Linked DNA regions of Homo sapiens. The protein of the gene in region 6 purifies or fractionates together with the protein of the main gene of each other region. This does not show direct contact. Each region holds a gene or a part of one and is shown on either strand. Other genes may lie near its edges.

What was found.
Region 1: the proteins of TMPRSS4 (region 6) and WDR1 purify together in Homo sapiens (affinity purification with mass spectrometry, with the first as the bait; one large-scale study listed by BioGRID). This does not show direct contact.
Region 2: the proteins of TMPRSS4 (region 6) and STC2 purify together in Homo sapiens (affinity purification with mass spectrometry, with the first as the bait; one large-scale study listed by BioGRID). This does not show direct contact.
Region 3: the proteins of TMPRSS4 (region 6) and ECE1 purify together in Homo sapiens (affinity purification with mass spectrometry, with the first as the bait; one large-scale study listed by BioGRID). This does not show direct contact.
Region 4: the proteins of TMPRSS4 (region 6) and CNNM2 purify together in Homo sapiens (affinity purification with mass spectrometry, with the first as the bait; one large-scale study listed by BioGRID). This does not show direct contact.
Region 5: the proteins of TMPRSS4 (region 6) and AGPAT2 purify together in Homo sapiens (affinity purification with mass spectrometry, with the first as the bait; one large-scale study listed by BioGRID). This does not show direct contact.
Region 7: the proteins of TMPRSS4 (region 6) and DHCR7 purify together in Homo sapiens (affinity purification with mass spectrometry, with the first as the bait; one large-scale study listed by BioGRID). This does not show direct contact.

What each region holds. Positions count from the first base shown.
Region 1 is NC_000004.12:10,110,300-10,113,799, forward strand, and holds part of WDR1 (WD repeat-containing protein 1), read right to left. Parts: intron 1-3,500.
Region 2 is NC_000005.10:173,314,223-173,318,414, forward strand, and holds the end of STC2 (stanniocalcin-2 precursor), read right to left. Parts: intron 4,028-4,192; coding exon 3,625-4,027; 3' UTR 501-3,624; downstream 1-500. UniProt on the Homo sapiens protein: Has an anti-hypocalcemic action on calcium and phosphate homeostasis.
Region 3 is NC_000001.11:21,220,964-21,224,463, forward strand, and holds part of ECE1 (endothelin-converting enzyme 1), read right to left. Parts: intron 880-3,500; coding exon 784-879; intron 1-783. UniProt on the Homo sapiens protein: Converts big endothelin-1 to endothelin-1.
Region 4 is NC_000010.11:103,078,794-103,082,293, reverse strand, and holds part of CNNM2 (metal transporter CNNM2), read right to left. Parts: 3' UTR 1-3,500.
Region 5 is NC_000009.12:136,684,658-136,688,694, forward strand, and holds the start of AGPAT2 (1-acyl-sn-glycerol-3-phosphate acyltransferase beta), read right to left. Parts: upstream 2,801-4,037; 5' UTR 2,701-2,800; coding exon 2,519-2,700; intron 1,540-2,518; exon of another isoform or gene 1,421-1,539; intron 1-1,420. UniProt on the Homo sapiens protein: Converts 1-acyl-sn-glycerol-3-phosphate (lysophosphatidic acid or LPA) into 1,2-diacyl-sn-glycerol-3-phosphate (phosphatidic acid or PA) by incorporating an acyl moiety at the sn-2 position of the glycerol backbone.
Region 6 is NC_000011.10:118,083,578-118,087,077, forward strand, and holds part of TMPRSS4 (transmembrane protease serine 4), read left to right. Parts: intron 1-3,173; coding exon of another isoform or gene 3,174-3,180; exon of another isoform or gene 3,181-3,386; intron 3,387-3,500. UniProt on the Homo sapiens protein: Plasma membrane-anchored serine protease that directly induces processing of pro-uPA/PLAU into the active form through proteolytic activity.
Region 7 is NC_000011.10:71,436,153-71,438,393, forward strand, and holds part of DHCR7 (7-dehydrocholesterol reductase), read right to left. Parts: intron 1,792-2,241; coding exon 1,660-1,791; coding exon of another isoform or gene 1,652-1,659; intron 1-1,651. UniProt on the Homo sapiens protein: Oxidoreductase that catalyzes the last step of the cholesterol synthesis pathway, which transforms cholesta-5,7-dien-3beta-ol (7-dehydrocholesterol,7-DHC) into cholesterol by reducing the C7-C8 double bond of its sterol core.

The DNA.
Region 1 (3,500 bases), on a different chromosome or scaffold from region 6:
GGGCCTTGCAGAAGGTGGAGGTCACTCTCCAAAGAAGCATCTCCAACTACTCTTGGGCAAGGCCATCTCTCCAGTAGTCTTACGCATGAGGCTAAACCTCTTCTCTTACCTCAAAGATGGCTTCAGTATCCCTCCCGTTACCTCCAACAGGGCAAGAAATGTACCAAAAGCAACACACAGGAGGCCACAGTGGGGCTGAGAGGACCCAGGTACACATGCTGTTTCCTGCCTGGTTTCTCCCCACCTCTGCCGTGTGTCTCAACGCTCCTCCTGGAGAACTCTTATTCATCCTTCAAGACCCAACTCAAATGTGGCACTTCTCCAGCAGCTGTCCCCGCTCTGTGGCACAGCTGGCTCCTCCCTCACATTCCCAGAGCACCCAGGGCATTGTTCTTTTGAAGCACTTAACCTGGTGCCTTCGAAGGTTCTTTACCAGAGTTTTCAACCTTGGTACCCCTGGCATTTGGGGCTGGACAGTTCTTTGTGGAAGGACGGCCATGTACCTTGTCGGATGTTTGGCCACAACCCTGACTTCAGATACCAGTGGCACAAAAATGTCTGCAAACGTTGCCAGATATCCCTCAGGGGAATGAGGTGGGGGAAATTACCCCTCCCTGAAAATCACTGATTTTAATCCTGGTCCTCTGTGGCTTAGGGTATGGCTTGCCAAGACAGGGGCTTAGTGAACATGTGTGGGAAACGTGAGAGCCAGAGATGGCTGCACCACGCAACGGAACCTGCGCTGACGCCGCCTTCATCTTTGAGCAGCTTCCTAATTGGCTTCCCTGCCTCAGATCTCAGATACAGAACTTCTCCTTACCGTAGGCTGGATCTGATTACTTGTCTGTGAGACCTCTGAATGGCTCCAGTGGCCTTCAGAGCAGGGCTGCGCTATGGTAGGGCTGTGTGAGCCACCTGCCACCACTGCACACCAGCACTTCTCAGCCTGGGTCCTGTCCACTCCCCTCACGCTCAGTGCCACAGTAACAGCCCATAAGCACCCGGCCCTTCGGTCCTCCCAGATGTGGTCCCATCTGCAGAAGCCCAGCGTCCTGACTGGCACCTGCAGCCACTCAGATTCTCCTGAGATGAAGGCCCCCCACCACCCTCTGCTTCCCCTGCCATCAGGTGGTCAGACTGAAGGCCTAGAGGTTCCTGGCTCTGCACCTGGCAGGCGCTGCTGCCAGCTCGTTTGCACCCAGGTGATAATCCAACGCACCACTTCCTTCTGCCACCTAGAGTTTATTTCACTCCCACCCAGGACAGTGAGCTCCATGTGGGCAGGGCCTCCATCCTGCACCCCCACAGGCCAATGGCCATCTGGATACACGCAGGTAGTCAGCAGGCGTCCAATTCCGGAGAAGCAGCTAGGTCAGTCCTCAAGCCCTCTGTCATGCCACCATTACCCCCAACCCGCAGGAAACACAGGTGAGTCCTCTGCATGTGAATGGTGGCAGCTCACACCAAGGGAAACCAAGAGTGAGCCCAATACCCTCCCCAACCCCCCACTTGGTCTGCCCCCTGTTCAAGGAGAAAAGTCCACTGATACTGCGCCTGGGTTCCCAGCAGTGTCAAATTGCTATAAACCTTGCACTCCCGGAAACTCAATTTTATAGACATCATTTTTCCAAATGTGTATTTTAGTTCTGGAATCTAGGAACTGGATACTTTAAAAACCAGGCCCCAAACTTGCCTGCATAGCAAATCTGCTGGCTGCCTGGCAGCACACAAGAGGGCCTCTGTTGTGAGGCAAAAGTTGCTTTTTTTTTTTCTTTTTCTAAACAGGGACTACTGGCACTACTGGCATTTTAGGCTGGGTAATTTTTATTGTAGGATGGTCCCGTGCCCTGTTTAGAATCACAAACAGGTTCGTTCACAGCCATTGGGGGTGACCCTTCCCAGTCTTTGCACAGAGGTCATAAGAGGCAGAGGTGATGCAGGCAGGGTAAGGAAACTTAGAAGGAACCACCCCAGACCTAAGGAGGTACCAGCACCTGCAGGAAGCCTTCCTTAGACCCCCGAAGCACAGACTATCCATCCCTTCTCCGTGGGGAACTAATGTCTCTCAAACACAGTGTACATATGGTTCACTGGAATCCCCTTCTTGGAGCTCTCTCCTTCTGGAATATTAGTTTCTACATGGCCACCATTATAGTCTTTCACTCTACAGAGGAGAGTTGCCTCTCCAGGTGAGGCAACGAGATGTGTTGAAATAAACAGGTAAGAAACACCCTTTTTCTACAAGTTTAAGAAGTGCCATTATGCTGGGTTCACAAAACAGCTTTTAAGTCAACAAAATAAATGACAGAGGGGGCTCCAAGTGCAAAGCTGGCAACGGTGCTCGCCTCTTAGGTATGAAAGGCGATTCCACAAAATTTAGGTCCGGCAATCTACACTGAGCTGAGCTTTCCTTGTTCTCATGCAGTAAGACCTCAGTGGCTGCCTATTATCTTCACGACACAGCCTGGTTTTCCAGGCTTTTTAATCAATGAGTAACTCACTGAGCACCTACTGTGTGCCAGACACTCTCTTAGGCGAGGACACGGCAGTGACTGAAAGAGAGGGGAAAGCCCTGCTGGCCTGGAGCTGATGCCCAGTTAGGGGGACAGGCAGATACCTATGTACACTTGTAGGCAGCCGTAGCCTGCTGCTTGTTAGCTTGCTTCCTACTTATTGTCAGCAATGAGAAAGACAGAAGGCCGGGGATGGAAAATTCTATTCCGGGGACACCCCTCTACTAAGGTGACTACATCTAAGTATAAACCAAAGGGAAAGGCCTAGTGTGGTGGCTCACGCCTGTATCCCAGGACTTTGGGAGGCCAAGGCGAGCGAGCAGATCACTTGAGGTTGGGAGTTCAAGATCAGCCTGGCCAACACGGCGAAACCCCGTTACCTACTAAAAAATACAAAAATTAGCCAGGTGAATTGGCACGTACCTGTAGTCCCCACTACTCGGGAGGCTGAGGCAGGAGATTTGCCTGAACCCGGCAGGTGGAGGTTGCAGTGACCCAAGATCACGCCACCGCACTCCAGCTTGGGCGACAGTAAGCCTCCACCTCAAATTAAAAAAGAAAAACCAAAGAGAAGACAGGGAGCAAGACTTGCAGCTATCTGAGAAAATGTCCAGGCAAAGGCAATAACTAGCAGGTACCAAGACAGATGTGTGGCATGTTCAAGAAGCAGCAAGGAGGCAAGAACGCTGGAGCCGAGGCCACGGTAAGGACTCTGGCTTTCACCGAGGTGGGAAGCCACTAGAGGCCTGTCTTGTGTTTCAGCCACTCCAGCGAGTGTTGTGAACAGACCCCCAGGGCAACAAGGGTGAAAGCAAGGAGACCTGTTTGGTTTTCGGGAGTCTGGGGGCAATAAGTCAGGTGGGGGAAGATAGCTTAGTCGTGGGTGGAGGCAGAGGAAGCCAGGGAAATCTGTTAGATTCTGAAGATACTTTGAATGTGGAGTCAGAAGGATTTACTAAAATTAAAATGTGGCGCAGTAGCGAAGCA
Region 2 (4,192 bases), on a different chromosome or scaffold from region 6:
AGGTACACCAACAGTGGCACAGATCACGTAAACCAGGGGCTCCAGCTCTGTTCTGCTGTCGTGAGCAAGAGCTGGGGAGGAGGCAGTGGGCTTCCCTCTATATGCCAGGCCACTCAGCTGTTAAGCTGGTGGTGTCTGCTGCAGGCTCAGTCTGAGAGAAGGGGTGGCCAAGCCACAGGGGAGACTCACAGGGGAGACTCAAAGGTGAGACCAGAGTGAGCCTTAAGGACCTGCCTAATGGGGTGTGGGGGTGGCACTTCCAGGCCAACTGCATGAAATTTATTCTCCTCCTTGTCTGGGTGACTCAGGCAGGGGCTTGGACAGGGTCCCTCTGACGGAGAAGCCTAGGGTAGTCCTCTTCATCTAACTTCCTTCCCTGTAGGCTGAACATCCACAGAAGCATAGGATTCTCTTGACGTAAAAGCCCACTTGCTCACAGCTGTCCCCCTGTGCACCGGACATCAATGACCCTCTCAGACAATGACGCTACTCAAGTGGAAGCCATTTATTTAAAACTTTTATTAACGCTTGAAGAAAAATAATGCAATGTGACAATGTACAGGTCCTGTTGCCTAAATCCGTAGTAGAAACAGATATTATCACTTAGCAAGCTCACGTGGTGCCAATTCTGAGATCAGACGGGGTTGTTCCTCCTTAGGAAGTGGCCACTGGAAGCATTGTTTTTCCATGCTATTTCCGTGAAGCCTTTTGCTTGGTTCGAGTTTAAATTTCTCCCTTTGTGTGAGTATGACTATAGTTCTGGCCTGGTGTTTTCTATTTATTTAGTTTTAGATGTCAGCATTTTACTATACTTGGTCCTCTCACTTCAGAATAACAGGGCTATTTATTGATACAAAGGAGAGGTGTTCAGATCATCTTGTTAAGATGCAGAGCTCAAAATAAACACTAAATCTTTATTTGGAGATCCACATCCTTCCTCAAAGGAAGGCTCATGAGTAAATTTGTATGCAGTATAAAGCCCAAGTAGAGGGTGTATTTTTAATGACTACTTTGCTTACATTTTAGATTGTGCAAATGTCTCAATCAATGCTTGCAGGAATGTGGACCTTCCTCAGTTTTAAGCAGAAGACCCTGAGCAATAAATACTGTTGCATGCTTCCAATAACGTGAGGGATGGGATAGAAATGCTATCTACCCGACTTCTGAGGAGAAAACAAAGCAGTGGCATGAAAAATATACAACAGAGATCAGTAAATGGGTTCAAATGAACACAGTAAACCATTTTATGCCTTAGGGGGAAAACACAGAGATAATAAATACAAATGACAAATATTTACAATAGAAGCAACGAATGGGATCAGTAGGCGAACACATAAAACATTTACACGGAGGAAAATGGAAATGTGATGCCTTTCACACATCCAGTCCAGGAGCTGGCGGACAAATGAACAGCTGACTCAGCAACGCAGGAGAATGTTATTGCTTTAGCTTTTGAGTGATGTCAGTAAAACAGTCAACGTGCCTGCCGCGGTGGCTCACTGCAGGAGACAGCCACGGTTTACACTCGTTCCCATGGCAGAGCCTGACACACAGGTCCTCCTCCCCCCAAGGGCAGAGCTGGATTAAGTGCACCAGCTCTTCTGTTCTCTGCAGCCCCAGATCTTGCTGGGTGCCCAGGGAGCCCGGTGGCGGGGGCTGGAGGTGGGGTTTCCTCCCTTCCCCCAACCAATGATTCCCCTCCCCACCCAACCGCCGGCATGGATCATGAAAGACTGGGATTGGATTTGGGGCATAGAAATACTAGCTGTGTTTTGGTTGAAGGCATTCCCCAGGAACAAGTCATTTTAGAGCAGATACGCTTGGTTTCTTGGTGTCTGGCCTCAGGTTGCCTTGAGGAAGAGCTGATGAGTTGACGGATAAGGATGCATATGCTTTTTGACCCACTCACTAGAACAGAGATCAGTAAACTGTGTCCTGTGAGTGAAATTCAGCTGGGAGCCTGTTAAATAAATCTTCCTGGAAGGGAGCCAAGCCCTCTCGTTTGTGTGTTGTCTATGGCTGCTTTTGTGCTAGGACGGCAGAGTTGAGTAGTTTCGACAGAGACCTCACGGCTCGCCAAACTGAAAGTACTGGATTCAGTATCTGGCCCTTTGCAGACAATGTTTGCTGACCCCCTACTCCAGAAGAGCCCAGCCCAGAATACCCGGCCACTCCCTACAATACCAGCTCCTGCTTGAGAAAGGATAGGCTTTAATTTGATGGCCAATTAGGAAGAAAAGGCCTATTTAGGTGATGTTTTAAATAACCCAAGAAACCCACTGCTGAGACTTTTAATGAAAATCCTCACTCTCCTTTCCTCGTATTTTTAGTTCTGTCTCTTCTCTCTGCCTTTATTTGTCCCCTTGGACTCCTCTCCTTATTGCTAAATTTCCAATTAGGATCTGGAAAATCCTGTCCCTTAGAGATTTTCAGCAGTCTCCTTGATTTTATGTAAAAGGTCAGCATTTCCTGATGGGAATTACTAAGTAGTCTTCATTCTCTTCTTTCCTTTCCCATCCCCTCACATGGAGAAGCCAGGTTTCCAGCTGGGTCTCCTGGAATCGCCAGGACGCAGCTTTACCAATCTTGGCTGAGGGTCAAGGTGAGATAACGAAATCCTAAGGGAAATTTGTCAAATGTACTCCCCAGGTGTGTATTTTCCTCTGGGTATAAGGTTTCCCCCAAGTGGGCAGGAGTCCATGTCAGGCAGTCAGATGTATGGCTATGTCGCTGTTTGATAGCTTTTAAAATAGAACTTAAAAAAAAGAAAAATCAGCCTCAAAGGATGGGCTGGTTTTTTTTTTTTAAACCCCCTTTGAGCTGGTTTTAATGACCCAGTTGCTTTGTTTGAAAGCCATTTATTTAGATGACAGATATGTAGATATAACTGGATAAATAAAAAAAGTGAAATCGAGATTTGAAGCAGTGGTTAAAATATAAACTCATAGGGGCCACTCCCTTGGACAGTGTCCCCCCCAGCCCAGACAGTACAATGGCTCAGAAATTACACATAGAAATGACACTCCTCCCTCCACCCTCGCCAAGAGCTCTGAACCGCAAGGCCCCACACAAGAAACTGAATTTCAGTTTGGCACCAAGCACCCCCTCGGCCCCTGCCTCCTCTCCACCCTTCTCCTGCATTCTAAGCGATATTTATTTTTACATTCACTCCTGTCCTGGAATCCAGCCGCCCTGACTTCCGCGGAGACAGCACCAGAGGCTGCTGCACCAGAAGCTTCGGGGCGAGGCCCAGCACCCACTGTGTGGCCCAGCTCTGGGGGCCCTGCCTTGCCCTGCCCCTCCCTGGTTCACCTCCCCCACAACAGAGCGGCCGACACCCACTGACTCCACAGATGGAAAGAAGACAAAGGTACGAGGATAACGCGGGCGCGCTCCCTTGAGTACGTGTAAGTGCAGAATTCACCAGGCACCCCTGAGACCCCACGGCCCCAGGGGTCTCCATCTCACCTGTCCGTTCCGCGAACACACACCTCGATGAAGTCCACAGTCCCCACAGAATCCTGCGTGTGACATCCCCCCTCTCTAATGGTAAATGTTTTGGAATGTCCATAGATAAGAAAATGGACGGCGTGGAGGAAAGATTTCGTGGCCAGGCCTTTCATTTCACCTCCGGATATCAGAATACTCAGACTGTTCGTCTTCCCACTCGCTGCTTCCGGAAGGTCCCTGAGCCCCAAGGCCCCCGACTCTGCCTCGGGCATGGGCGTTTGGGTGGCTCTTGCTACCTCGCTCACCCTTGGCACCTCGGCCAGTCTCCCTACTGCTGGGCTCTGGGAGGTGATGTCCTGCTTCCCCGTGGTGGGCCCTGGAGAGCTTGGTTCTGTCCACCTGGGGCTGGCGCTCGGGGGGCGCCGTGGGAGGCTTCTGGATGGCCGAGGTGCAGAAGCTCAAGATGGAGCACAGGCTTCCCCAGTTCTGCTCACACTGAACCTGCACGCTGTGGGTGATGGCCTCCTTCACCTCCTCCCCACAGGTCAGCAGCAAGTTCACGAGGTCCACGTAGGGTCTAAAGATTGAAAGCAAAGAGAGAGAGAGAGAGAGAGAGAGAGAGAGAGAGGCTGGGAATGGAGCAAGTCCCGAATGGACCACAGAGGGCAGGGGCAATGCTGGGAAGGAGGCATGGCCAGTGCTTGTCTTGGGTTCGGTGGAAGATCTCTCTCAAATGACTTCA
Region 3 (3,500 bases), on a different chromosome or scaffold from region 6:
CCAAACTGTTCTCCTTCAGCCAGCGCAGCATCTCTGAGGCAACTGCATTCGATTCCATCTGAACAAAGGACTGTGTCCAAACACCAGTTGGAAAAGCTTGGATTTAGTCCAGATCTCTCATTTCCTGGGCAGAACAAATTGTCTAATGGCCTGGTAGCTCTGAGTGCCAGCAGAAGGCTACCAGATGAATGCCGACTGAAGGGATGATCTGGGATGATCACAGCAAGACAGAATCTTGCTATGTTGCCCGGGCTGGAGTGCAGTGGCGTGATCTTGGTTCACTGCAACCTCTGCCTCCCAGGTTCAAGTGATTCTCATGCCTCAGCCTCCCAAGAAGCTGGGACTACAGGCAGCCACCACCATGCCTGACTTTTTTTTTGTATTTTTTCATAGAGACAGGGTTTCACTATGTGGACTAGGCTGGTCTCAAACTCCTGACCTCAGGTGATCCACTTGCCTCGGCCGCCCAAAGTGCTGGGATTATAGGCGTGGGCTGCTGTGCCTGGCTGGTCATCTTAAGTTTAAGAAACCTCTAGAACCCTAGAACCAGAAGGGCCCTGGGTGATCACCTCGTCTTCTCATTCACCAGATCCAGGAATCCCTTCACTGGTACTTTGGGCCCTTCCGTGCATCTCTCTAATGACAGGGCACATGTGCTGTGCACAGTCCAGTGACTTGGGAAGTTCTCAATCTGTGGGGAACTTGCCTTTCGGCTCTCTGGGCTCTTGAAACATCAAGATGGCAGAATGTACCATGTGTGGCATGTTTTCCTAATGGACTCACCTGTGCAAAGCCCAGGAAGAAGAGCTGGTTATTGGTGAGGCCCAGGGTGGGGAGCGAGTGCTCAGCCCCGTTCTTCTTCACCCAGTTCTGGTAAGCCTGGGAGGAGAGAAAACCAAAGCTCAGGGGTTCCCATGGCAGGTGGTGAAGGAGGGGACTGGTATGGAGGTCTCAGGGAGCTCCCCCGTGTTGGGGCAAGGACTAGTTTCTGGGGATCTGGGCCTGGGCTCAGCCTAGGGGAGCCCTCTTCTTGATGTGCACTCGTTTAGCCCTATGGCTTAAAATACCTTCTACGCACTGATGGCTCTCACATTTACACCTTCTGCTCCAGCCTCTTCCCTGATGTGTATATTCAACTGTGCCAGCTGGACAGCCAAGATGCATCTCAAACTTAACATGGTATAAACAGAGCCACATCGTGTGTGTGCATGCACACACACACACATACACACAACTTTTCCCATCATAGTCAATGGTACCACCATCCATCATCCCAGGCCCCAAACCCAGAACGCTTCTTCAATTCTTCTCTTTCTCTCAGATCAAACACTGACCACTGCTCCGCTCCCCCTTCCCATTGCTCTACCCTGTCTCTTGCCTGGACAACCTCACAACAGCTTTCTAATCAGTCTTCTGACTCAGGCTGATTCAATTCCATTCCCCTCCTGGCAAAGCAACTTCAGTGAACCTTAGGAAGCAGGTGCTGGCAAACCTTTTCTGTGGATGGCCAGAGAGTGAGCACATTGGGATTTGTGGGCTAATGGTCACCGCTGCAATGACTCAATTCTGCTATTGCAGCATGAAAGCAGCCACATGGCCGGGTGCGATGACTGACACCTGTAATCCCAGCACTTTGGAAGGCCCAGGCAGGTGGATCACCTGAGGTTAGGAGTTTGAGACCAGCCTGGCCAACATGGTGAAACCCCATCTCTACTAAAAATACAAAAATTAGCCGAGGTGCGGTGGCACATGACTGTAATCCCAGCTACTCAGGAGGCTGAGGCAGGAGAATCACTTGAACCAGGAAGGCAGAGGTTGCAGTGAGCCGAGATTGCGCCACTGCACTCCAGCCTGGGTGACAGAGTGAGACCCTGTCTCAAAAAAAAAAAAAAAAAAAAAAAAGCCACAGACATGGAAACAAATGGAGCCAGCTGCAACGCCAAGAAACTTCATTTACAAAAACAGCCTCACAGCTAGATTCGGCCCATGGGCTGTAGGTGTGCTGACTCGTTTTTGTTTTTGTTTTTTTTGGAGACAGGGTCTTACTGTCACCCAGGCTGGAGTGCACTGGCACAATCTTGGCTCTCTGCAACCTCCACCTCCTAGGCTCAAGCGATCCTCCCACCTCAGCCTCCTGAGTAACTGGAACCACAGATGCACGCCACCATGCCCAGCTAATTTTTTTGTATTTTTGGTAGAGACGGGGTTTCACCACGTTGCCCAGGCTGGTCTTGAAGTCGAGCTTGTGATCCACCTACCCTGGCCTCCCAAAGTGCTGGGATTACAAGCATGAGCCACGGCACCCAGAGGACTCTTGTTTTATTTTTATTTATTTATTTTTTTGAAACAGAGTCTCGCTCTGTCACCCAGACTGGAGTGCAGTGGCACAATCTTGGCTCACTGCAACCTCTGCCTCCTGGGTTTAAAAGATTCTCATGCCTCAGCCTCCCAAGTAGCTAGGATTACAGGCATGCGTCACCACACTTGGCTATTTTTTATATATAAATATGTACATATTTCTGAGATGGAGCCTTGCTCTGTTGCCCAGGCTGGAGTGCAGTGGCGCGAACTTGGCTCATTGCAACCTCCACCTTCCGGGTTCAAGCAATTCCCTGCCTCGGCCTCCCGAGTAGCTGGGATTACTGGCGCCTGCCACCACGCCTGGCTAATCTTTGTATTTTTAGTAGAGACGGGGTTTCACTATCTTGGGCAGGCTGGTCTTGAACTCCTGACATCGTGATCCACCCACCAAGGCCTCCCAAGGTGCTGGGATTACAGGCATGAGCCACCGTGCCCAGCCATTTTTATATTTTTAGTAGAGATGAGGTTTCACCATGTTGGCCAAGCTGGACTTGAACTCCTGGCCTCAAATGATCCGCCCACCTCGGCCTCCCAAAGTGCTGGGATTATAGGCATGAGCCACTGCGCCCGGCTGACCCCTGTTTTAAAGGGTAGGTTGAATCATGTCATTCCTCTATTTTAAAACCCTATATTGTGTCTCTCTATCATAACCAGGACAAAACCAAAGGTCCTTCCTTAGCCGCAGCCGACAGAAGCCTGGAGTGGTCTGGTCCCCGCATTCCCTACACTCTGCCCTGCCCTTCTTCCCATCCTTGGACGTGCCAGGCTTGTGTCTAGTTCGTGGCCTCTGCACTTGCTCTTCCTCTTGCTGAGACCATTTTCCCCAGCTTTTCCCAGGCTCTTCCTCATCATTTAGGTCTCTATGCAAATGTCATAACCCCAGAGAAGGCCTGCCGTGGCCAGCGTCCTCCCCATTATTCCTTTTACCCCCCGTTATTCCTCATTACTTCGCCCCAGTTTATATTCGTCACCTTTTCAATAGCTGACATTATCTTACAGATTTATGATGTATTTATTTGCCTTTCTTCCCCTTCCAGCCTCCACTAAGAGTATAAGCTTTTAGAGAGCAGGATGAGCTTCAAACACAGCCCCTGCTAGGTAGATTCTCAATACCTTTCATTGACTCGTGGACTTTAAGC
Region 4 (3,500 bases), on a different chromosome or scaffold from region 6:
ATCTGCAGCCAAATCTGGCCCCCAAAGAACTGCATCCTAAAAGTGAATCCATGTGGATCAGATGCCGGAAGGCGTCCTTCCAAGCGAGGCAAGACAATGCTCCCATTCTTCTCATTTGTTCACGGTCCCAATGGGCATTAAAACCTGAAAACCTTGTGTACTCAAGTCTTTCTTACAGTATGTGTTGGATCTGTGTACATATAAACCTTGGCATACAAACACCTAGAACTTTACTCTCTTGCAGCTAGAACCTTTGTTTCCATGATGCTTGAAGTTCAACCTGGTATTTCCCATCAAAAGATATTTAAAACAATTCTAGTAGAGATGATGTCAGTAGCTCTAGCATACAGAGAGAACGTGCTTACTTGAGCTGAGCCAACCACAGTGGTGTGAGAAGCAAAGAAGGTCCCCAGCCTAGGATGGTGGGAGGAAAGCTGCTCCCTACTCTATGCAGTTGCTGTGAACTGCCATCTCTTCTTCGCATCCGTAGGGTTGACCAGGGACTCTAGAATATGAATCTCCAGATAGGAAAGAAGGTAGCAAAAGGGAAATGGGCAAGTAAACCGTGATCGCAGACAGAAAGCTTGCAAGTGCTAGAGGAGGAAGGCCTACTTGTCACAGCCTTGCTAAGTAACAGCAGCAAGCTATTGGTGCACCACTCACCCCTCAAACGGAGGCAAATGAACCTCAACTTAGAAGTCTCTGAACGTCTCTCTCCTATTAACCAACTTGAACACCTAAGAAATAGGAAAAGATAAAGATTTGCAAATGACCCTGAGGTATAAAAATCCACTGAGAAGTTGCTCATTGATACATCAGAAAAATTTCTGAATCCCCAGATCACTTTCCTATTCAAACCCCTATATCCCTACTAAATTCTGGGTTAACCTACAACTCACCCAGATACCCTTGATGGACAGAAGCACCACTAGCCTAGAGCCCAGAATGGAACTACATGGCCCAGGACAAGAGCCAGTTTCCTCAGTAAGGAAGTAAGCAATGGCACCTCAGAGGCCTTCTGGACCCTAACCTACCAGCTCAGTCTTGTATTTCTCCTCAACCCTTTGCAAAGAAAAGCCCATATCTGGGCTCAAAAGCAGAGGGGAGTTTTTCCCATGCCACCAGGGAGCTTGGGTCATGCTACATAGCGTGCAAAGCCAGCCCTCCCTGGCCTGCTCTTGCTTGGAGCCCCAGAGAACAAGGTGAGCACCTTCCTGTGCCAGCCCGGGTGAGTCATCTGCCTAGGATCACCCCTGGGGAACCACAGGGGCAACTCTGGTTGCCCAGGAGACCTCACCTTCCTGGGCCTAGGCAAGGCGAGGATGGCTACAGATCCCCGGCTGGCCTTCAGATGACAGAGGTGGTTGTGTGTTTTTACTAGGCAGGACACAGACTTGATCAGCCAGGGCCTATACAGGTCTGCTCCTCAACCCAAAGAGAGAATTTGAGGGCAGAAGTTCATGGTACCTGCTTAGCTCAAATTCCTATTGCTCTATTTCCTAGGGAAAATGTATTTCTATTTGTATCTACCATTATTTTCCTAGGCTTGGAAAAGCTGGTCCTTTAGTGTACAGTGCTGACGACAGCACAGGTAAATATACTCACAGTTACTGTTCCGTATTAGTGTGAAGCTCTGCATTCAACATTTGCACTGTTCCTTGAAGTCACATTAGAAGATGGTAAGATGCCCCACTCCCTCCCACTTGGGGATGCCAACCACTTCAACATGGCATTGAACTCCCTGCAGGGAGTGAGGTGAGGAGGGAGGAAAGAACAGAGTTCAATGTAACCTTTCAAGTTCAAATTATGTAAGAATCAAGATTTAAGCCAGTTGATTAGCACCCCGATATCTGTGTAAGTCTTAAGATTTTGTTTTCCTAAGAGTTTAAATGTATGATTTTGAATTTGCCTGACGCATATGGGACAAGCAGTGAAGGGACGGAACCTCCAAACAGCAGGAGAAAAGCCCTCCTCATTTACAGAGCAGGCAGAGTGTCCCAGGACTATCTGGATGCTAGGGATTTAGTTTCAGAGGAACCGTGGGGCACCAGTGGCTGCTCAGGAGCAGGTGAGGCTCTGTCCCACCCAGAGAGGCCCCGTAAAGGAGGGTGAGGCCTCCCATCAGTATCCAGAACTCAGGGGTCTGCATCTGGTCCACTCGACCCACTCCCTTCCACACTTGAAAAGGTCACCGCCGCGGGAGGGCAGTCCAGCGGAGGTGCCAAAGAGCAGCCACATCGAGACCGCAGCTATTCCACGGTCTTTCTCTGCCGGACCCCACTGGCTTTGTAGAGATGAATGGCAGAGGCCTTCCAAGCCAAAGTCATTCTCCTGCTGCCCCAAAGAAGCAACAGCCCAGTGTTTCTCCTCCAACCATCTGAGAGGTTGGTTTCCTGAGGGAAAATGGGGCCTGGAGGAGGAATCTGGCCGCTCAGACATGAGTGTTGTTTGAAGGGTCCTAAGCTCTCCCCAAAGGAGATGTTAGCCTTCATTCCTTCAGGGACCTGACAGGAATTATTTTAGATTCCCTAATGTTATAAAATAGTGTGACTAACAGAAGGTAAAGAATAACAGAAAATGAATACGAACTTGGCGGCTAAAATTTCATCCTTTGGGAGCCTCACTGATGCCACTCCTGCCGAGCTCTTTTATAAGAGAATAATTTGCAAGAAGCCATCACACCGAGCACGTAAGACAGTATTAAGAAGTCTGCTTCTCCCTGAAGTCAGAGGCAGCAGCTGGCATCCCCTCTCCTCTCCCCAGACTCAGTTCTTTAGGATTTATAAAGGAACAGCAGAGCTCTGAAAAGGGCACCAACACACTAGCTCTGATTCCAGAGGCTCTCCCAGTAGCAAGGCATCCCCGAGAGACTGTGTGTGGAGAAGCAGACGTGAGCCCAGATAGGTTGACAGGGCAGAGTTCCTGAGGCCAGAGAAGCTGGGCTAGGCAGGCTTGGCTCCCCACAGCTCAGGGAAGGCCAGCACTGCGCAGACCCGAAGAGGGGGATAGATGCCCTCTTCCAGCATGGGCTACGCTTTGCTTTGTTGCAAGGACCCCTCATCTTTATACACTCATCACACTGGTGTTGTGCTCAGTGAGAGGCATCTTAAGAAACTGACTTTTGTATCTAGATGGCTCTGTTTAAAAAAAAGGATGCTTAGAGTGGGGTCCCCTCTAAGGTCAAGCTACGCGGTGGGGCTTCATCCCACGGGGGCAGGTTGCGTGCCAGTAGCAGGCCACTCAGCACCCTCGGGGGGTCCCTGTGACCCTCTACACCAAGTGAGATCAGTACTTCCCCCCACTAAGGGACACGGCACCTTCTGAGGAAGACACTCCAGGACTGGCATCCCAGAGGAAATACTGAGCCGGGCATGCACAACACCCGAGGCACCAAACTGCTCACCAGGCAGCCAGCCCGGCCCGCTGCTGTCTGCTCCTCAGCCACGCTCCCTGCCCCGCACACAGCCCAGCCGTGGCTGAACAGACTTCCTACCTGGAGT
Region 5 (4,037 bases), on a different chromosome or scaffold from region 6:
AAGCGCTGGGCTGGGAACAAGGGGAAAGGGAAAAGCAGGTACTCTGGAGTCACTGTCAGTGGGTTCGAACCCCAGTTCCACCCCATCCTGGCTTGGGGACCCTGCCCCAGTTTCAAGTTGCTTATCTCAGCCTCAGTGTCCTTATTTGTAACACAGAGCACACGCGAATCCCTGTTCCTGAGGCTGGAGGCACCCGTGGCGTACAGCAGGAACAGAGGCCGAGTATCCCCTCCTTCCCTTCCAGCCCCCCGGGTCCCTTCCCTGGAGTGACAAAGCGCCTGCTCTTCATCTGCCTTTCTCACCCCTCCCGACGGCCCCCACGGAGGGAACGCACGTTCGCAACAGCCCCACTCTTAGCCATTGCTGGGAGTCTTGGAAGTCATCAGGGACCCTGGGGCCTGGGGAGCACGTGCAGAGGTGTGGGGGAAGGTAGCCATGGAGCCCCAGGCCTCTCCTCCAGACTGCCCTGCCCTCTGGCCCTCCCTTCTCTTCAGGGACCAAAGCAGGAACAAAGCACCTGCTGTTAGTAGCCAGTGTCCCGGAAGCCACTACTCCACAGGCCTGAGCCTGGGTGCTGCCCTGGAGAGGTGAGGGCGGCAGGAGGGTCCCATCCAAGCACCATCAGAGGCCCCAGGTCCCGAGGACACCCAGGTTAGCCAGAATCTCCAAGCTGAGATGGGGACAGGGCCCAGTGGGGCAGCAGGGCCAGTGCCAGCCAACCCAGCCTGCCAGGTCCATAGAAAGGGCAGCAGGTGAACTGTGATTTGGTCCCTGGAAAACAGCTAGGAAGTCCAGGCAGAGGCCCCTGCAGAACAAGCCAGGCTTTCTCACACGAGGAGGCCGCCGATGAAGAGGCCCGTGGCCTGTGGCCTGGCTCAGTAGTGGGGTCTGCTCCAGGGTCTCCTAAGTCAGGTGCCCCATCATTTCTGCCAAAAGAACAGGACCCCGTCCCCTGTCCACACCCCAGGACACGCCCAGCACAGGATGCCCTGCAGGCATCAGAACCACACAAGCCATTTCCTCGGGGTGGGGGGCACCCCAAGGAACCCACAGACTGGCCCCTCCTCAGCTGGGAAAGCCGCACCCTCGCCCCTACTCTGAAGCACCCCAGGGGCTGAGGGGGGCCCCTCACAGAGACCCCTGCCTACAGGGGATCCCAGGGCCAGAACCACAGGTGAGGCCTTCACAGATTCCAGCACAGGTGCCCAGAGCCCAGCCCCCAGGAACTCCCTGTTTCTGCAAACTGCCTTCCTCGCTGAAGGGTGCTCCACTGGGGACGTCAGCGCCAGTCACCACCTGGGCCAGCCCTGGAGTGTGCGCTCCCCGGGACCCCGGCCTGGGCCACCTGGCCCACATCACCACTGGTCACACACGTCTGGCTGAGCAGCCAGCAGGCCCTTCTCGGACTCTCCATGCTCACCATCAGGCCCAGGGTCCTCCTTCATATTCCTGGAGCTTCTGGGGCTCCGTTGGAAGCCATGACTGTAGGCCCGTTCCAGCAGCCTCAGTGCCCTCCCAGGGCTGGCAAGGACAGCGAGTGCAGGGAGCTAGCAAACCCTCACCCACTGCCCCTGGAACCACGGGGAAGGGGGCCTCTGGGGCCACAATGCCCCCACCCCAGGCCATTGCAAAAGCCACTGGCTGGGCAGTCCAAACAGGGCAGGGAGAAATGTAGCAACAGCCTGGGGACGGCTAACAGGGAGAGGGGGCAGGCAAGAGCCTTCTCCAGCAGCCACCCCGCCCAGGAGCAGGCAGCCCCCGCCGTCTTTGGCAGCCCAGTCTGACCTCTGGCCCCCAACCCCAGCCTGGCAAAACCAAGCTCCCACCTTCTGGAAGGCGTCCAGGGGAAAATTTCAGCCCCGCCGAACCCTAGTCCTAACTCTTCCTTCCCTTCGCTTGGAAGCTGGGCCCCCGGAGCTGTAGGCCAGGGGCGCGCTCCCCAGCACGGAAGCAGGTCCCCTCCGGGTCCCCCACCTCCCTGCGAAGAGGAAAGGGAGAGAAAGGGGAACCCGCCCCACAGGTGCGCCCATCACCGGGCGGACAGTCAGGAGGGGGTCGGAGGGAGGCCGAGGGGTGCCCCCACGCCGTCGTGCGCCCTGATCAATAGCCCTGGGGCAAGTCCCCGCCGCCCCGGCCTCGGTTTCCCCGCTCAGGAAGCAGGGCTGAGCCTCTCCCAGCGCGGACCGGCCCCCTTTCTCTCCGAAAGCTGCTCCACCCCCGGAACCCCACGCCGGGCTGCAGGGACGCGGCGGAGGCCGAAACCGGTGTAGACGCCCGGGGCCAGGGCGGGGGGTGGGGTGCTGGGCACTGTGACGCCGGCTCCTTGACCCCGTGACTCCGGGACCCCCTGACTCCGGGACCCCCTCCTGTGCCTGCCGCCGGCCCAGGCGCGCTCTCCCCGGAGCCCCGGAGCGGGGCGGGACGGGCGGGGCAGGAAGGAGGGAAGCCCAGAAGAAAGTTAGGGAAGCGGAAGCGGCGCGGCGGTTCCCCGGCCCCTCCCGGCGGCCCCCGGCCTTGCCTCATGTTCTCCACCGTCCGGCCGCCGTGGCGCAGCAGGCAGACGAGCGAGGCCACGGCGGACACCGTGAAGCACAGCGCGCAGTACAGGGCGACCTTGGCGTAGAACTCGGCCGCGCGGCTCAGCTGCACCAGCAGCAGCAGCAACAGCAGCGCCGCGGCCAGACACGGCCACAGCTCCATGGCCCGGCCCGGCGCCCGACGGCGCCGCCAGCTCGCTCCCGCTCCCGCTCCCGCTTCTCCCCCGCGCGCTCAGGCCCCTTATTGCGAGGGCGGCGGGGCTGGGCGGGGCGGGGCGCGGCGTGGGGGAGGAGCGCGCGGCAGGGAAGGGCTAGGTGCGGCGCCCCGCCCCGACACTGTCCCCAACAACGCCCCGACACGGTCCCCTCACCAGGCCCCGCCCCGCCACTGTCCCCAACCCCGCCCCGACACGGCCCCCCCTTCCCGCCCTGGGTCACCCGGCCCGGACCTCCCCTCCACGCTCCCTCCCCACAGCCTTCTGCCAGGTTACCGAGGCTCTGGCGCTCTGCTCCCACCCTCCCGGTCCCAGGGGACCCCCCCATCATGGCTTGCCGGTGGCTCGGGCTCTGGCGCTGCCCCCCATGGTCTGGGCCTCCTGCCCCGCCCGGTGCCCCCTCCCCCCGCTGCCGGGGCAGCCACAGGCTCCCGCGCGCAGAACCACAGCTCCCCAAGGGCGTAAAACCAGCGGGGATGCGCCCGTGCCAGGCCGGTGGCCACGCAAAGGGCCGCCGGAACCGCCCCCGAGTGACCAGTGGCCACCTGGCAGAAAGCCTGGCTCTTAGGGTGTTCTCGGTCCCCTGCGGGGAGACTCGTGGGGGCGCGCAGGCCAACTGGGGCGTGTGTCTGGGCGGGGCTGGGTTGCCCCACCCTGGGTGCCAGAAGTAGCCTTGTCACCAGGGACGCTCCGGGGGCAGGCGAGGTGGGTGTCAGGTGGCGGCGTTCACATCCGCTTGGCAGCACGGCCAGCGTGGCAGGGCAAGGTGCAGCTGGGACAAGGGCAGCAGTCACCTGGCCCGGCCCCCACCCGGCGTCCCACCTCAGGGAGCAGATGGAGATTGAAAAGCAGTTTCCTGGGGTCCCTCCTCATAGGGACTCTTGGGTTTGCTGCAGTTGCGGGAGTGCTGGCCGCCCTGCGCTCTAACGGGTCAGCAGGGGAGCACGGCCCCTCTTTTTTCAGATGCAGAGTTGAGCTGTTAAAACATTTCCCTGAACATTGTAACCACCCCCCAAACTGTACTGAGAGAATGACAAATACAGAAACTGCTCTTCAAATGAATGGGGAACTGCGGTCCTGAAGGACGTGGGGTCTCGCTGCCTGGGCTCAGCAGCCCCTGCCCAGGCGGTCCCAGCTTTTCTTGAAAGTGGAGACACATCCTTTTGCCTTAGGCCTGTAGGCATCTTACAGCGAAACCCAGGAGAGCATTTTCCAGCCCAGTCTCCTTCCAGATCCATATGGGCTTCATCTGGAATCAGCTTGGAGGGCCTGGCTTGACCTCTTT
Region 6 (3,500 bases):
TGTCATGAACTTCCCAAGTTCTATTTTAATATTGTTATTAATAACTAATAAAAATAATAGAATATACTCCATGGGCAAAAGAGCTTTACCTCTGGTTCACTGCTAGGTCTCCAGGGCCCAGAAAGTTGCCTTACTAAATGAGTAAACTATTATTGTTGTTGTTATTATTATTACAGTTAACAATTACTGTACTCTTGGCTGGGTGCAGTGGCTCACACCTGTAATCCCGCTTTGGGAGGCCGAAAAGGGCAGATCACATGAGGTCAGGAGTTCAAGACCAGCCTGGCCAACATGGTGAAAGTACAAAAAATTAGCTGGGCGGTGGTGGCAGACGCCTGTAATCCCAGCTACTCTGGAGGCTGAGCCAGGAGAATCGCTTTTACCTGGGAGGTGGTGGTTGCAGTGAGCCGAGACAGCGCCACTGCACTCCAGCCTGGGCAACAGAGCGAGACTCCATCTCAAAAACAAAACAAAAAAACAATTATCGTACTCTTACCGTGCACCAGGCAATGTACTATATGCTATGCATATCTGGGGCTCCTTAGGAGGGAGACTTACTGCATCTCTCTTTCTCTCTCTCCCTCTTTTTCACACACACATGAAACTGAGTTTCTTGGTGGTTCAATAACTTGCTAAAGCCTCAGGCCAATGAGCAAACAGGATTCAGACCTAGGCTGCAGGATTCCACGGCCTGTGCTCTGTGCACTGTAAAACACAACCTCTCCTAGCAAATGTAATTTCAGCAAGGAAAAACTTCATGAAGCACTCGACGAGTTATGTGAGTGGGCAGGAAAGCAGTAAAGGAACTTCAGGTTATGCAACTGCAAAGTCAGAGAGGCAGAGAAGACACTGAAGCACTATTAAAGCACTATTTATAGGATCCTGAGCTCAGAGTTCACAGGAAACAGATCTAGGAGTCACTGAAACCTGTGCCAGGAGATTGGCTGCAGCAGCCACACCAGCCCAGCAAGGCTGGTTATCACTGGGGCCTCCAGAACAAACGAGAATCCTCAACCCTGCCCCTGTACAGAACCACAGCACAGACCCTCCTTGAACATGTGTGGAGTTCTGCTCTCCATGCCTGTAGGGTAATTGGGGCAGAGAGCACTAATTTTCACTTACTAAACTCCTCTATGTTTCAAGCACCAAGCCAGGCACATCACATGTGTCATCAATAATTCTCACCAACAACCCTGTGAATTAAGTCATATTCTCCCCATTTTACAGATGAGAAAACTGAGACTCAGAAAAATTTATTAACTTGCTCAAGACTTCATGGCTGGGAAGAGGCAGAGCTGGATTCAGGCCAGTGTCCCTGCCTCAGAGTTCAGGAGGAGCAGGATCAAGGGACAACCCCCTTCTGATCAAGGCAGCTGAGACCCCTCAAACTGCAAAGACCAACCTAGGGGACTATGAGCAAGTCTGTAAAATCATGCAAAGACCAGATGGGGCTCCTGGGGGCTTGCAAAGGTGCTGAAAATGTGCACGGTGCTGAGCAGGTGGCGCACCTTACAGAATCTTTCTCCCCATCATCTTGTGAAGTCGCTTTTATTGTACCCACATTCCAAAGAAGGAAACTGGGTCCAGGAGCTGTTTAGTGACTTGCTCAAAAGTTGTTCTACAGATGGAGGAGTCAGATCTTCTTCTTCTTTTTTTTTTTTTTTGAGACAGAGTCTAACACTGTTGCCCTGGCTGGAGTACAGTGGCAGGATCTTGGCTCACTGCAACCTCCGCCTCCCAGGTTCAAGCGATTCTCCTGCCTCAGCCTCCCGAGTAGCTGGGATTACAGGCACCTGCCACCACGCCCAGCTAATTTTTTGTATTTTTAGTAGAGATGGGGTTTCACTATGTTGGCCAGGCTGGTCTCAAACTCCTGGCTGGAGTCAGTCCCAATCAGTTCCTTTTCCCTCCCTGCCATTTCCCTCCCTCTTAAAGTTTAAAGGACAACTCAGGACAAGCAAAAGTGAGTACGATTCTTGAAAGATGGTATAAACTCTGTCTTTGAACCTTTTTAAATTAACGTCAGACTGCTCCATGGATGGCAGGTCCTCAGTTCAGGTAAATTGCAAGGTTGAGAGAACCCCTCTAAGCTTTAAAATCCATCAGCCCTTCCCAATGGCAAACCCATGAGGGTCCCTGCCAGGCTGAAAGGCTGAACTGTGTGGCGGGACCCCTTCTGGCCCTCTCGAGTCCCCTCCAGCCATTGTCCAGGCATTGTCCTCAGGTGTGCAAAGATGGTGGCACCTTCCTTCCTATCAGACCCTTCCAGGAGGGGAAGGTGGGCTCAGATGGACCCACCACTCTGGAACAGAGGGAAAGCTGAGCAAAGTAGAGCTGTTGAGAGTTCAGAAAGGTGGGAGAGAATGGGCTGCTTCCCCTAGGACAAAGAGAAGGATCGCAGAGGGATTCCTAAGCACTGCAGTAAACAGCAGCATCACCTGGAAGCAGGGCCCTCCAGTGGGAACCAGGTCTGTCTTCAGTTTAATTTAGCCCAAGGGGCATGTACAAATACCTCACTCCTGCCCTTCACATTGTCTCTGGGGAAAAAGCATAAGCGCTGTGCCTCAGTTTCTCCATTTGTGAAATAGGAATAGTTACATCTTCCCTGCCTCCCCAGCCCTATCTGAACCTAAGAGCTATGCCCGAACACAAAAGCTGATTCTTAAATGATGGGAGCTGAACAGCAGGCTGGCAGGGGATAATGGCAGGCTGCCTGACTCCTCCCTTCTGCCCCAGGCCCTGCCCTGGAGCCATTATGTGCTGAGATGGGGGATGAGGTGCTCGGCTCAAATTGCCAATAGGTCAGCACCTATGTGGTTTAGAACAAGGCAAAATGGTTTCTAATGTAGCAGCCAAGGCTGAGGTTAGACCCAAAGGAAAAAGTGCTGCTCTAATAATGACTCAACGCAAGGCAGTGTTTGTGAGGATGCTCCCTGAATTTCTGCGTGAGAGCTTAGATGCCCAGCGGCATATGGCCTGGGCTGGTGGCCGACCTGCCTAGAGACAGAGTAACAGGTGCGATCCCAGGATACTTGGAAGTCGGCATGATCAGTCATCTCTGAGGACCTCCCATGCACTCTGGGCTGCTGCATCACCACCAGGCTCATCTCAGGAAACTCACTCCCTCCTCTCCTGCCCCATGATCTTCCAGCCCTCAGTGACCCTCTCCTTACCTGTCATGGCTGAGACATCCAAGAGAGAGAGCCCTGTTGCCAGCGCAGCAAAGGCATCAAACTGCCTATTCCAGCTGCAAGTGGAGAGGACACAGCTGCTTGCCGTTGGTTTTGGGGAGGGATGCAGGTTCTGGGGTCAGAGAGCAGAGTGAGGCTCCCTCAGAGGAGCACTGTGGCCGGGCCCCACTCTGCAAGCTGACGGCAAGCACCTCTGGGTCTCTTGGCTTACCCGAAGAACTTTCCCCACCCCCTCCCTTGGGTTTTCCCCACTGCTTATTACTGGCCTCAGCAACCTAACTGCCACCTGCCCAAGCCTCAAAGGACCTG
Region 7 (2,241 bases), about 47 Mb from region 6:
GATGGTCAATTTAACGTGTCCACTTGGCCAGGCCATTGTTCCCAGATATTTGGTCAAACACTAGTTGTAAAGGCATTTTTCAGATGAGGTTCATATGTTAATCAGTCAACCAGGCAGAGTGGATGACCCTTCACAATGGGGGTGGGCCTCATCCAATCAGTTGACAGCTTTAAGAGACAGAAGACCCACCTTCCCCAAAGAAGAGGGAATCTGCTAAAAAGTGGCCTTCTGGCCATGCACAGTGGCTCACACCTGTAATCCCAGCACTTTGGGAGGCCAAGGCGGGCGGATCACGAGATCAGGAGTTTGAGACCAGCCTGACTAACATGGTGAAACCCCATCTCTACTAAAAGTACAAAAATTAGCTGGGCGTGGTGGCATGCACCTGTAATCCCAGCTACTCGGGAGGCTGAGGCAGGAGAATCACTTGAACCCAGGAGGTGGAGGTTGCAGTGAGCCAAGATCACACCACTGCACTCTAGCCTGTGTGACAGAGCGAGACTCCGTCTCAAAAAAAAAAAAAAAGTGACCTTCTATTTAAGCACAGCATCAACTCTTCCCTGGGGCTCCAGGCTGCCCTGAAGATCTTGGACTTGTCACTCTTCAATCACATGAGTTGAAAAATACATCTCTTTCTTACACGTATACCCTCCACCCCTCTATTGATTCTGCTTCTTGGGAGAAACCTAATATATAGTATAAAAAATGTACATCTCGAGACACACACAGAGGCTAAAGCAAGTAAGAGCTATTATATAGTGGGACCTATTGCTACGTTTTCACATCCTTGGAAAATGGAGTTTATAAAACCAGGGAACCAGCAGACCTGCAGCCAGCCAGGTGGAGAAATGGGGCCGGGTGGGCCATGCGGGGGGCTCCAAGGACCTGGTGTGAGCATGGGGCCAGCTGGGGCTCTGCACCCTCCACCTGGTACTGGCCCCCTCTGCTGTGGGAATCCTGGTTTTCCAGGACACCCGCACCTCCATCCCACAGGACTGGCTGTCACAGGTGATGCCGGGCCTGTCACATCCTGAATAGGTGACAGCCTCTCCACGTTGGTTCTCTCCACTTGGGCACAGCCTCTTGGGGCAGGCCACCCCACCGTTCTGCTAAGCAAGTGCCCTGGGGTGAGTTATTTCTGTCCCCAGGGGGCTCGTTGCTCTTGAAATGGGCAGGTGGCATCTGGTCAAGCAGCCACCTTACCTGGGAGCCCAGCACTCTCCCCAAATCAGAGCAGGGCTGCTCTCGTTGAGCTGGGAGGGGAGTGGGGGGCTTGATGCCAATGACAAGGCCACTTGCTATCCCCTACTGTCCTGGAACTCCCAGGGCAGCCCTGCCCCAGTGCCCAGCACATCCTAGGAGGCAGGAATGAAGAGGACCCCTCCTGCCAGTGCCCGCACTGACCCACCTCCACCTCCACTGCCCCATCCAGCCCTGAGCCGGCATCTGCCCTACTTTGCAGATGTTAGGGACATACTCAAGGCCACCTCCCTGGCTGCTGGCCCAAGCTGGCTGAGCTGGCTAATACACGAGGCCTTCCCTTCTTCCTAGAAACAGGGGGCAGCTTTGGTGCCCCCAAGGACAGACGCTTCTGCAAGGAGAAAGCTTAGCATGTGTCTGCCAAATGCCCCGCTGGGCCAGCTCTGCCCACCTCCTCACCTGCAGCGTGTAAAGATAAGGCAGCCAGACACAGTCGCCCCAGCCCAGGTACCACCCGAAGTGGTCATGGCAGATGTCAATGGTCTTCAGGTACCAGGTTTCGTTCCAGAAGAAGTCAATCACGTAGATGGCCTGCAAGACAGAAGCAGCCGCTGACCACCCCCGGCCCTCCTGGGGCCCCCATGGACCTCGGGGAAATCACACTCCACGCAGATGCAGCAGGGGGTGCTCGGGAGCTGCTCAGCAACTTCCTCAATGCTGGGGCTGTTCCTTCCCTGCGGCTGGGGCTGTTCCTGCCTGGGTCATGGGCAGGGCTAAGGGCTTCCTTGTCCTCAGAACCACCCCGAGCCCATGGCCCTGGCATCTCTCCCAGCCCAGGTTCTCAGGGCTTGCAATGGCGCGTGCCAAGGGGAAGGGATACATTCATCCCATCCAGGTCAACCTCCTGCCCGAGCAACGTCCACAGCTCCTGACAGGCCTCCCTCACCCTCTCGGGTTCTCCTAGCCAGCTCCCGCTGGCTCCCTGGGTGACGCTTCCGAATGCACCTGATCGCTGCCACCCTGCACCCCAGCTCAGCACAC